Regions from separate parts of the Homo sapiens genome. Here region 2 is linked to region 1. The links come from fine-mapping of genetic effects on gene expression. A gene starts in region 1. The other region holds a variant in brackets. All regions are shown on one strand. Distances are between the middles of the regions.

Region 1 (5,377 bases):
TAGAGCCTAGAGCAGTAACGGGATAGCACTGTGACCCCCTGGCAGTGCAAGACTGTCGTCTCCTCCTCCCTACCTAGCCTGGCAAGCTTTCATTCTTTCCACTTGCTCTCCTCCCAACCCTACAGACACACACACACACACACACACACACACACACACACACACACACACATTCAGACACTTCAGACACTTTCCACCCCTGCAGGCTACATATCAGAGGGAGTCACTGGGCTTGGAAAACAACAGGTTTCTGAAACTTAAGGAGGTAGAATGGGAACTTTTTCCACCATGCCTTCTGTTTACTGACCCCAGCTCTCCAGCCACTGTACTCCCTCCCCCATTTCCCTTCCCCAACCCCACCACCTCCATCAGACTCCCTGAGTCTGAAGGCACAGGATGGTTAAAAGGAGCCTTCATTCCTGCGACTCTACTCTCTTCTCCTCAAAGAAGTGGCAGGCAAGGTAGGGCATTCTCACTGTCTCAACAATATAATTTGCACATGCCCTGGCCCTGTGCCCTTCGGTAGCCATGTCTTCCCTCCCTGAAGTCCCCTGGGATTCTCCTTTGTCACTAACTGGCTTCCTTTCCTGGCATGGAGCACCTGACCCTGTCTGCTTGTCTCTTTTACCGGCAAACTATATCTCCCAAGTTGGCTGGCTTTTACCTTAGGGGTCAGGAGAGGGAGCAATCAGGCCAGAAGAGGGACAGGAGCATCAGCCACCTAAAGAAGGAATGGTAGCAACAATGAGACTGTTTAATCTTTCTAATTGCTGACACCTTCAATACAGTATCTGATATTCATTCAGTAGTTATCAAGGGTCACTTCTGTGCAGCCACTGTTCTGAACTCTCGGAATACAGAGGGAAAAAGACAAAGTGCCTGACCTCATCTAGCTTTCATTCTAATGTAGTAGCTAGGCAATAGACACATAAACACGTAAATATATACTAGAAAGCCAGCTAGTCAAGGGCATGCTTATCGTTGTTTTTTGGTTACCCAGAATCTGAACCTCCATCCTATGTTTGAGATTCCCTACCTCATGGAATCTGGTGGATAAGCAGAGCCCATGGTCCATTACATAGAATTTGAAAATGCCTGATAGTGGTTTTATCAGCCTCTCTTGTAGAAGGAGCCAAGGCCTGTGGCCAAGGCTCCACCAGCCAGACACACTGGCCCACAATTTGAGTTAGGAACCAATGACTCAAGGACAAAGAGACTGAGAAAGCCCTCATAGGAGATGGCAGCAGCTGCAGAAAGATGGGGATTCCAAGGGTGCTGGTGACAGCGGGTTCCAGCAGTGTTAGTATCTGGGACGGTAGCATTGGTGACATAACCAGTGGCAGCTGGGGCAGCAGAGATCCCACCAATTCGTGCAATGCGTGCACTCTTCTTGGCTATAAACCACTAAGCCTTCCCAAACATTCCTGGAGCTGTCAAAGTCTACACATAAATCCTTCTTCTACTTAAACCCGCCAGAGTTCCTTGTGCCCTCATCTAAGAGCTGAACACAAGTAGTAACAAGTGCTCAATCAAAAGGAAAGCCAGACGAAGGCATGGAGAGTGATGAGAGGCTACCTTAGGTAGGTGGCCAAACTCAGCCTCTCCATGGATATGGCTTTTAAGTCTCTCCAGAAAGCCCGAGAGCAAGGCCACCTGAAGACCTGAGGGAAAGAACTCCAGAGAGAGGACACAGTGCAAAGGCTGGGCAGTGACAAGCTGGGGGGCTGAGGAATACCAAGAAGGCCAGTGTAGCCTGAGCTGAGACAGAAGCTAAGTCAGAAGGACAAGCCAGGGCCACAGTTGGTGAGGCTGGTTAGATTGTCGTGTGGAGTTTGAGTGTCATGCTGCGTGTGAGGGAAGCCCCAGCTGGTTTTAAGCAAGGTGACACGGTCTGGTAGTTGAAAAGATCACCCCGGCTGCTGTCAGAAGAATAGTCTGTAGCAAGACAGGAGTGGAAGCAGAAAGATCAGAGACTCTTGCAGAGGTTCAGGAGCCAGGTAGTATGGGTCTGATCCCTCTAGGCCGAGGGCGTTTGAGTGGCGGTGGTGGGAAGAAGAAAGATGAGGAGTAGATTTTGAAGGTAGAGCTGAGAAGCCTTGCTGTGTGTTAGATGAAGGGTGTGAAGGAAAGAGACAGTTCGGGACCGAGCCGCTCTCTGAGATGGGGAAGATGAAGAGAAAGGCAAGCTGGTGGGTGGAGAAGTCAGGATCAAGAGTTTGGCTTTAGATCTAGTGAGTGGGAAACACCAATGAGGTGGAGTGGAGACAGAGTCTGCAGGGGGATGTAAGGACCTGGATGAGGTGGGGGCGAGCTGGGCGCTGGAACTAAGTGTGTGGGATTCCTCGGCACGGGGAGGAAATGTACAGCCATGAAGCTCAATATGCTCACTCAGACGAGAGTGTGGTTCGAGAAGGGGGCTCAGGACAGAGCGCTGGGGAACCAGGGATGAAGAGATCACAGCGAGGAAGAGAATCCAGCTAGGGAACTGCAGGGCGGGAGGAAGAACACAGACTACGGCGTCCTGGAAGCCAAGAAAAGAAAACAGGGGCCTTGGCAATGACCCTAGGCACTTCCAGAGGATGCTTGTATCAAGCAGGTAAGGGGACTGGGGCTCCCAGAGGATGGGCCACCCCGTTTCAGTGCATGGCCCGGCGCCTCTTTAGAAGAGGAAGCCCCTGGATTCCAGAACGTGCTGGCTCCACCCAAGGCAGACGGCAGTGAGGCCACACACTATTCCCAGCCCCTTTCTCTCTGAAAAGAGCCCTTTGTAACTTCTTTGAGAAGGAAACACCTCCGTCAGGGGAGGAACATTATTTGCTTCCTGTTAGAACAGACTTTTACTTAGGATCAAGCTCGGTGTCAGCCCCATCCCCACAGGGAGCAATAAGGGAAAGAGGAGGGAGGGGGCCGCAGACACTCACTTGTGGGGGCTGGTTTCGCAGGAACGGCTCCGGAGAGCTTGAAGAGGGGTAGGCTGCAGGCCCACAGCCGCAGTCTCTCTCAGCTAGAAACCCTCCTCCCTCCTCTGCCAGCCTGTCCTCCCCGGGCTCCGTTCGAAAGGCCTGGGAGATAGGGAGAAGGCTGGTCAGCCTGGGCGGTTAGTGGCTGGTTTAACACTTCCTTGCCTGCCAGCCCTTTCCCAGGAAGACTACAGCCAATCATTCATTCATTCAAAAGCTCTTTGCCAAGCACCTACTCTGTGCTAGGTCTGTGCCCAGCATGGGGACACAGTATTAGGCAAAAAAAAAAAAAACAAAAACCAGACATCCCCCATCTGCCCTGAACTTACAGTCTAGTGGGATAAATTAAACAAGGCACGCAAACACCTCTACAGCCACAAATGTGATAAGGCTCTAAGTGAATATCGCACATGACAGTGGCCCTGCTGAAGGCCAGGCAGAGGTTCCTTCTTGAGGAAGGACGTCTCTGAATCTCCAGAAGCCAATAGAATCTGTAGCAGCAGAAGAAAGGGTCAGGTTTCTAGAACTGCCCACTACGACTTTAGAAGCTGACGCATCTCTGTTATGCCGCGGCTGCGATGTTTTAAGTCCCCAAAGCCCAGAGCACATCGTGGAGCATGGAAGTGGTTCACTGAGAAGCTGAATCTAGTCCTGGGGCTGCTGGTGTGGAGGGTGTGTTCCGCTCTTGGGGCAGCAGCAACAGGTGCCGTGAGAGGCTCAGAGCTTTTGAAGCAGAAATGGCAATACTCTACATCTTCAGCAAATATTTGGGAGTCTTTTGTTAAAAGAAGAGCAGAATAAATATCTATGCCTCTTGTAAAACCCAAAGGAAAGCTCTCAGATAGGCTTCTTTAGGGCTATGACTATCTCTGCAGCTTCACTATACTGAGTTAAGTCTGTAGAGCATCTGTAACCCTAGGCATGTGTGTCCACAACCTCCACACGTACACAAGGACACTCCTACAGAGGACAGGCCGTGCGGACAGTTAGGGGAGGACAGTGGAGGCCGCTTCAGTTCACTTCGGTGCTTTGGATTCAAGTGTTTTTCTGTTTCATTTTCTGGGTAGCTGATTATTAAGCTAAACACTCCTTTGATGGTTGAAAATACATTAGTCCCTTTTCTTGCACGAATCTAATTCACCAAAGCCTATTAAAGTGCTTTTGGACCAATGAGGAAATTTAATGCTCAAGTATTTTATTCTGAATTCCAATTTTCCTTGTGTTATGATTTTACCTATAGGTGGTTGGGTTGATTGTATGGTAAAGATGAAAAAAAGCATATTTGGAAAGAACATGACAATTCTCAAGGTGTTTATACTACTTTACTGTATTTGATCCTTGCAACTGCCATGTGAATTAGGCAAGAAATATTTCAGTTTTACAAATGAGAAAACTTCTGTCCTGAGACATTAAGTGATATACTCAAAGGTCATATAATAATTTGTTTTGTTTTTATCTTGACTACCATACTCCTCTATACCACCTTCAGGACTCTGGAAGTCAGATATATGTGAGTTTTTTGTCAACTAAATTCATAGTTGTCTTAATATTCATCCCTTGCTAAAATTAAGGTGCAGAAATAAAATCTGTCTAATAGAGAAATATAAATCCATCTTTTGTCTGGATAATCAAATTTTACTATATTTTGTTTTAATCCTGAGAATGAAATTTTACAAATAGCTCAGGAGGTTTTCCCTAGAGTTCCAAATAAAAGTGTGTGGATCATATACACGTTCTGCTTAATCACATGACGGTTCCAAATTTTTAATTTCAATCCTTCATTACGATGAAAATTTTTGCGTTTTTTTTCCACCAGCTCTTTGTTTTGTTTTTCAATGGCTCAGGAAAGGAGAGGGGTGTGGGAGACTCTGTCTCTTTTGACAATCACCAGCGCCATCTACTGTCAAGAAATAAAATCGTGACTCATTGTTAACGCGTCAATGAACATTAGGGCTTAAAGAGGGAAAGACAATTTTATACCCCAGTACTTACTGATAAATATAAGTTCATGTACACATATTTTTATCTTATATTATTGTATTCTTAAGCAGCCTATAGGGAGAATACAATGAACTTAATATATAATTATTTATGTAATTCTTAAGAGCACTAACTTTGGAAGAGGATAAAAATGGGGTGAATTTCAGCTAAACCACTTAATAGCTACGTGATTTCTCTTACCCTCAGTCTTTTCATCTGCAAAATATGAACAATTATACTTAGAAGGTTGTTTTCTTGATTAAATGACATATGTAAAATTTACCCCAAAGCTAGCAGATCAAGGCAGCTATTGTTATACGACATTTATGGAGCACACGCTGGATATCAGCCTCTGCTGGGGGCTTGCTTCACAGCAATCCTGTGAGCTGGAGAGGCTCTGAGCTAGCAAGTACTGTGTCCAAGATTACACAACTAAA
Region 2 (5,377 bases), 48 kb before region 1:
GAAATGGCCATTTCTAATCTTCATGTTCCATATATGGCAACACCAAATCCTTTGGAATGGGATGAACACAGAAAAGGCCTGTATGTTCCACCTAAGCATTCTCCTTGCTGCAAGCTCTCTGGCCAGTTGTAGGGCATGCAGCATTGCTCTCTCCCACTTTATTATTTTAAATGCTATTCATATTAAGGAATGAGAGTAACTAATGTTTATGGGAGCTTGTTAAATGCTGGACACTGAGGCATGTTGAGGATTAAATGAGATGATGTCCAGTGCCTCATTGAGGTAAGTGTTGTCACAGTCTCACTTGTGAGGCTAGTAGACTGGATCTCAGAGGTCAGATAACTTTCCCAGGCACTGGCCTAGGAATGGGCTCAGCTGGAATTCAGACAGAGGCAGGCAGACCCCAAGGTCCCTGCTCCTCCCCACTGTGACTCCTGCAAGTGGTACAGACCCATGTTCTGGGCACAGGCATTAAATGGTCACAGGACTATGCTCAGTCTGTCTCACTTTTTATCAGAGAGTGAAGGAAAAGGTATCCAATCTATAGGGAGATGCCCTGCAGATAGCAAGGCCAGCACTTCATGTCCAGTCTTTCAGAGCTTTGTCAGACAGTCGATTTTCCCTTTCTAATGCTGTGACTGGGATGAGAAGGCAAAACAAAAAGAATTAAAAATATAGTATTTCTTTCCCTACTTGGCCCAAAGGAAAGGTTCCGTGGGAAGTTGAAAAACAGATGGTCCAGGGCAAAAATCAACAAGTTTGACATCCAGGATTAAAAACCAGATGGCACTAAACAATCTTTAGAAGCCTCTAGAGGGGCTTCAAAGAAATTGCCCAAAACTCCATGTATGTTTCCATGAAGGCAAGTAGACTTAGTCATACATGATCTTATGATCTGTGGCCAGGTTCTCCTCCACCCAAAATTGTTCCCTGGGATGGGATCAAGCTAAGCACTTTGGGAAAGGAATGGGACCTTTTAGGCCACCAAGAACAGAGAATCCTAACATCTTATGGCTTTAATCAATGCAGTTGTTTCACTGAGTTGACTGATCAGATTAGGCAGCCGCCTCTAATCTTCTCAGGCAGGTCAAGGCTCATAGAGAGCCCAGCATTTGAGGAAACATAAATGTGGTTTTTAGTACGTATGCTGTTAAAGTCCCAGCACATAAACCTCCAGAAGTCACACTTCTCCGAAACCAGTCAGATGTAGAGGCATCTGAATAATGGCTCTTGTAGGGAACCCTGTTCCTGCTTCCTGTTCTTCAGCTGCTTGGAAAACATTGCTGGAACACTGGGATCCACTGAGGGAGATTCTTCCAGAAGTGTCCTGTGTCCCAGACTGTGACTTTTCTAACCAGCATGGACACAGTTGAAATCTAAGCTCCACTGCATCTGCTGCTGCCATGATAGAAACACTGGCATAGCATGTGCTAGGTACCAGGCCCTGGTCTAAACCAGTCACCTATGCTAAAGCACTTTATCATCACAGTGACCCTGGGGGGAGGGTGGTCCTTTGAGGGGACTGATTCATGGAGGTTAAGTAAGTTGGCCAAGGTCACTCAGGTGGTAAAGAGTGTATTAGTTTCCTGTGGCTGCCATAACAGAGTACCACAAACTAGGTGGCTTAAAACAACAGAAGTTTCTCTCTCATAGTTCCATAGCCCAGATATCCAACACTAAGGCATCAGCAGGGCTGCACTCCCTCCAAAAGCCCCAGGGAAAGGTCCTTCCTTGCCTCTTCCAGCTTTTGCTGGCACCAGGCATTTTTGGCCTGCAGCAGCCTCACTCCAGTCTCTGCCTCCATCTTTACTTAGTCTCTTCCGGGTCTGCAACTTCTTCTGTCTCCTATAAGGAGACACTTGTCATTGGATATAGGACCCACCCTGATAATCCAGGATGTTCTCATCTCTGAGAGCCTCAATGTAATTACATCTGCAAAGACCCTTTTGCCTAATAAGGTCACATTCACAGGTTCCAGGGATTAGGAGATACATGTATCTTTTGGGGACCACCATTCAGTTCACTACAGCTGAGCAGCTGGGATTTGACTCAAGCAGTCCAGCTCCAGCACGTGGCCTCCGACCATCACGCCATGCTCTCTCATGTGGTTACTTTTCACAGGTGTCAGCAAAATGCCTGCTCAATGATCTGAGATTTTTTTTCACAAATCATCACAGAGCTGAAATGCTCATTTTTCTGTGCTGCTACTCTGTCCATGTTCCAGAAAGGCAGCACATTAAGTCTACACCACATCACGCATCCCCTGACAGATGGAGAGAATATCAGCAAATCAGATTGCTTTCTAAAGAAAACAGAATCCAACTTTGCAAATGTTTAAAGCTTGCATATTTTCAAAATTTCAAGCAAAAGTAGAAAACCTCATTACCTCAGATCACGGTTGACAAAACTACCATTGACAAAGAATTATCCTACATGCAATGAAAACCCAATATAAGACAGTGAGTGATTGTCCAAAACGTGGGTGTTAGGTCACTACCCAGACAACAGCAGAGTTGACGGTTCTACCCTAGCTCTCTTTTGATGAGGGAAAACATTATTTTTAAATGAAGCCTGCCACTTCAGTGTAGAAAACATAAAGATGTGGACAGTCACCATTGTCATTTAAAGGGTGAGCTGTATTTCTTCTGAAGTAAAGTGATGAGTCCAGGCAGTACACTCACTCTATCAGATATGATTTGAAAAGCTGAAAAATAAACCTCTGACAATAAGATTTTAGGACAGAAATGCTGCCAGGGCTC[G/A]AAGTACATTTCAGAAGAATAAAAAGAAAGTAAACGATGCCAAAGGCCAGACAAACAAAAGGAAAATTCCTACTTCGTTTGTTCTCATGAAATGCCACAGAAAAATAATCTGTTAGGCAGCTCTTCTGGAGTCCAAGTTCTTGCGCTGTGCTCATCTCTTCTTTCTGTTAAAGCTCGGTGCTTTGCAAGCTGTCGTTAAATTGCTTACACGGATGGACGGGGCCAAGATGGTTTTCAGTCTAAAGCCAGTGAGAGTCTCAAGGCAGATTCTGAAGGCCTTGAACCACCTGAGCCTGGCCAGATGGATTCTTCCTTTCACTGTTGTGACCATTGCTTTGGTGTCAGAACCCTATGGGAGAGCTGAGTCCATGACCAGAATCCTCATGCCTTTCACAACTCCAATTAGCCAAGAGCATGGCACGGAGCAGAGGTGCTGGTGGGAGAAAACAACACATAGGTGAAAAACCTCGGGATTAGGCATTTCAAACAAGAGGCATTCATTTTGCCCGACACCCAGAGTTGCCCCATAAACAAGCCAGAAACTCAACCAGGCGGTGACGGAACAAGGAATGGATGAGTGACAAACTGGGCTGTTGATTCTGTTGTAACTGAGGCTTGACTGTATTAACAAGCATGCAGTGATTAAACAGACCAGCACCAGAATTTTAGCAGCTACCTTGAAGCCTGCTGACTGACACTGTCCCTGGAGCCCCTGTTATAATGAGGTCCTTGTGATAACTTACTCCCTTGGATAGAGTCCAAGACAGGCACGTGCCCTGTGGAATTCCACACTGTAACCAACCATACTTCAGAGAGATTCCAGAATAATGATGGTATTGCTTATTTAGGCTGAAGGTTATCTGCTCCTCCTCCTCCAGATCCCTGCCAGCCAAGGGAAGAGCATCTCATTGGTGTCAGATGACAAGGGTCTTGTTCCCTTTACTGGAATAAGCTTCTTATGTCATACAGACTCTGGAAGTCCTGAAAAGCCATCTGTCTTGGCCTTTACTTTAGGAAAGAAAGTATCATAACCTGCCACAGCAGTGGGGACAGCTGAAGCCGGGGGTTACTATTCGCCCTTGTTACTATTCATGGAGGCTCTTAGGGAAATGACCAAAAAGCTCTTTATGGCTCTTGCAATTAATCCTGAAATTCTGGTTGTCACTTGTGGGTAGAAACATATGGTTTACAAATGGGTTGATGATTATTATTTCAAGGAAAAACTAAAACATTATAATGAGAGTTATAACATAATGGTGGGACAGTATAAATAGGGAGAGAATTTGTAGTGTTTTCTTGTTCGTTTTGTTACATGAATAGACAGCTAGGGGAAAATGGCATTCTATGGGGAACTGATGGGATTTATTTAATATTTATTTAAATAAATTTATTTATTTATTTATTTAGACACCTCTTTTTTCCCGTCTAAGTTATAAACTAATTAAGAGATGGACAAAGAATAAGGTAAAGGAAGGTCAAAATATTACCTTGGGCAGGGTGCAGTGTCTCACACCTGTAATCCCAGCACTTTGGGAGGCCAAGGCAGGAGGATCACTTGAGTTCAGGAGTTTAAAATAGCAACATAAGAAGAATCTGTCTCTCCAAAAAAGAAAAAGAAAAGAAAAAAAGGAGGTGAGGTGGCACATACCTCTAGTCCCAGCTACATGGGAGGCTAGGGTGGGAGGATCACCTAAGCCCAGGAGGTCAAGGCTGCAGTGAGCTGTGATCACACCACTACACTGCAGCCTGGGTGACAGAGTAAGACTGTTCCTCAAAAAAATAAAAATAAAAATAAAAATTACCTCAGTTCGTGAAAACAGCAAAGATGTGTGGCATGACTAGCTCCATTCCCTGGAATTAGGAAATATCACCACACTTATGATGAATCTTACAAAACTTAAGCCTTCCCACTCAGGGAGGGCCACATAGACATGAGAAAGTAGAGCAGAATGTGGTTGTTTTCCAGGGGAAGCTGGCTTCTAATGAGAAGGGAGGGAGGGAGGGCCTGGGCTTCCTGTGCAGATTCATTTCCCTTGGTTACCAGCAGGTCACTCACCCCACCTCCGTGGGCATTAGCCATGAGGCAAGAAGTAAGAGGAGTTTAGAAAAAAATCCTTGTTTCTGGAAACCAGAGAGGAGGGAGACACGGTTCACTCAATGAGTAGGAACTTCAATGGTTAAATGTGTCTTCTTGTAACAAACATCCATGTAACTATTTGAGGCCAGAATGAATTCTTCCTGGTGTTTCTTTAGGTGATTTCTCCAAGGGAGGCCTGTGGTATGCAGGGGATTTTTACCAAGACCAGCGTTCTCATGAGTCCAGAGGCTCATCTGCCCTTAGAGGATTGGAAGATTTGCATCCGCTTCCACAAGCTGCTAGCCTAATCCTCTAAGGTTCAAATCTGCCAGGGATCCATACCATGAAGGCAGTCCTCCTGAGTTTGCTTTGGAGTCTGACACTTTTCATTATGGACATCAGTGATTGACACCCTGATTGTACTTAGAATCACCCAGAGGGAGCTTTTAAAAAGTATTGGTACCCAGGCCCCTCCTCAAACTGAGAAAACTGAGGACTCTGTGGGTGAGCCTGGACATGGATGGCTTTACCAAGCTCTCCA

The links.
Region 2: its variant is fine-mapped to the expression of PIRAT1 in whole blood (TOPMed, PIP above 0.99).

The regions. Positions count from the first base shown.
Region 1 is chr2:37,872,822-37,878,198 of GRCh38, forward strand. PIRAT1 (PU.1 (SPI1) induced regulator of S100A8 and S100A9 alarmin transcription 1) reads right to left here and starts at 3,042. Exons shown (of 4, transcript NR_110012.1): 1 at 2,922-3,042.
Region 2 is chr2:37,824,687-37,830,063 of GRCh38, forward strand. PIRAT1 (PU.1 (SPI1) induced regulator of S100A8 and S100A9 alarmin transcription 1) reads right to left here. Exons shown (of 4, transcript NR_110012.1): 3 at 4,247-4,352; 4 at 1,561-3,192. Among named protein-coding and RNA genes, the nearest start is that of PIRAT1, 48 kb to the right of the region's middle. The variant G/A (reference allele first, on the strand shown) is at 2,760.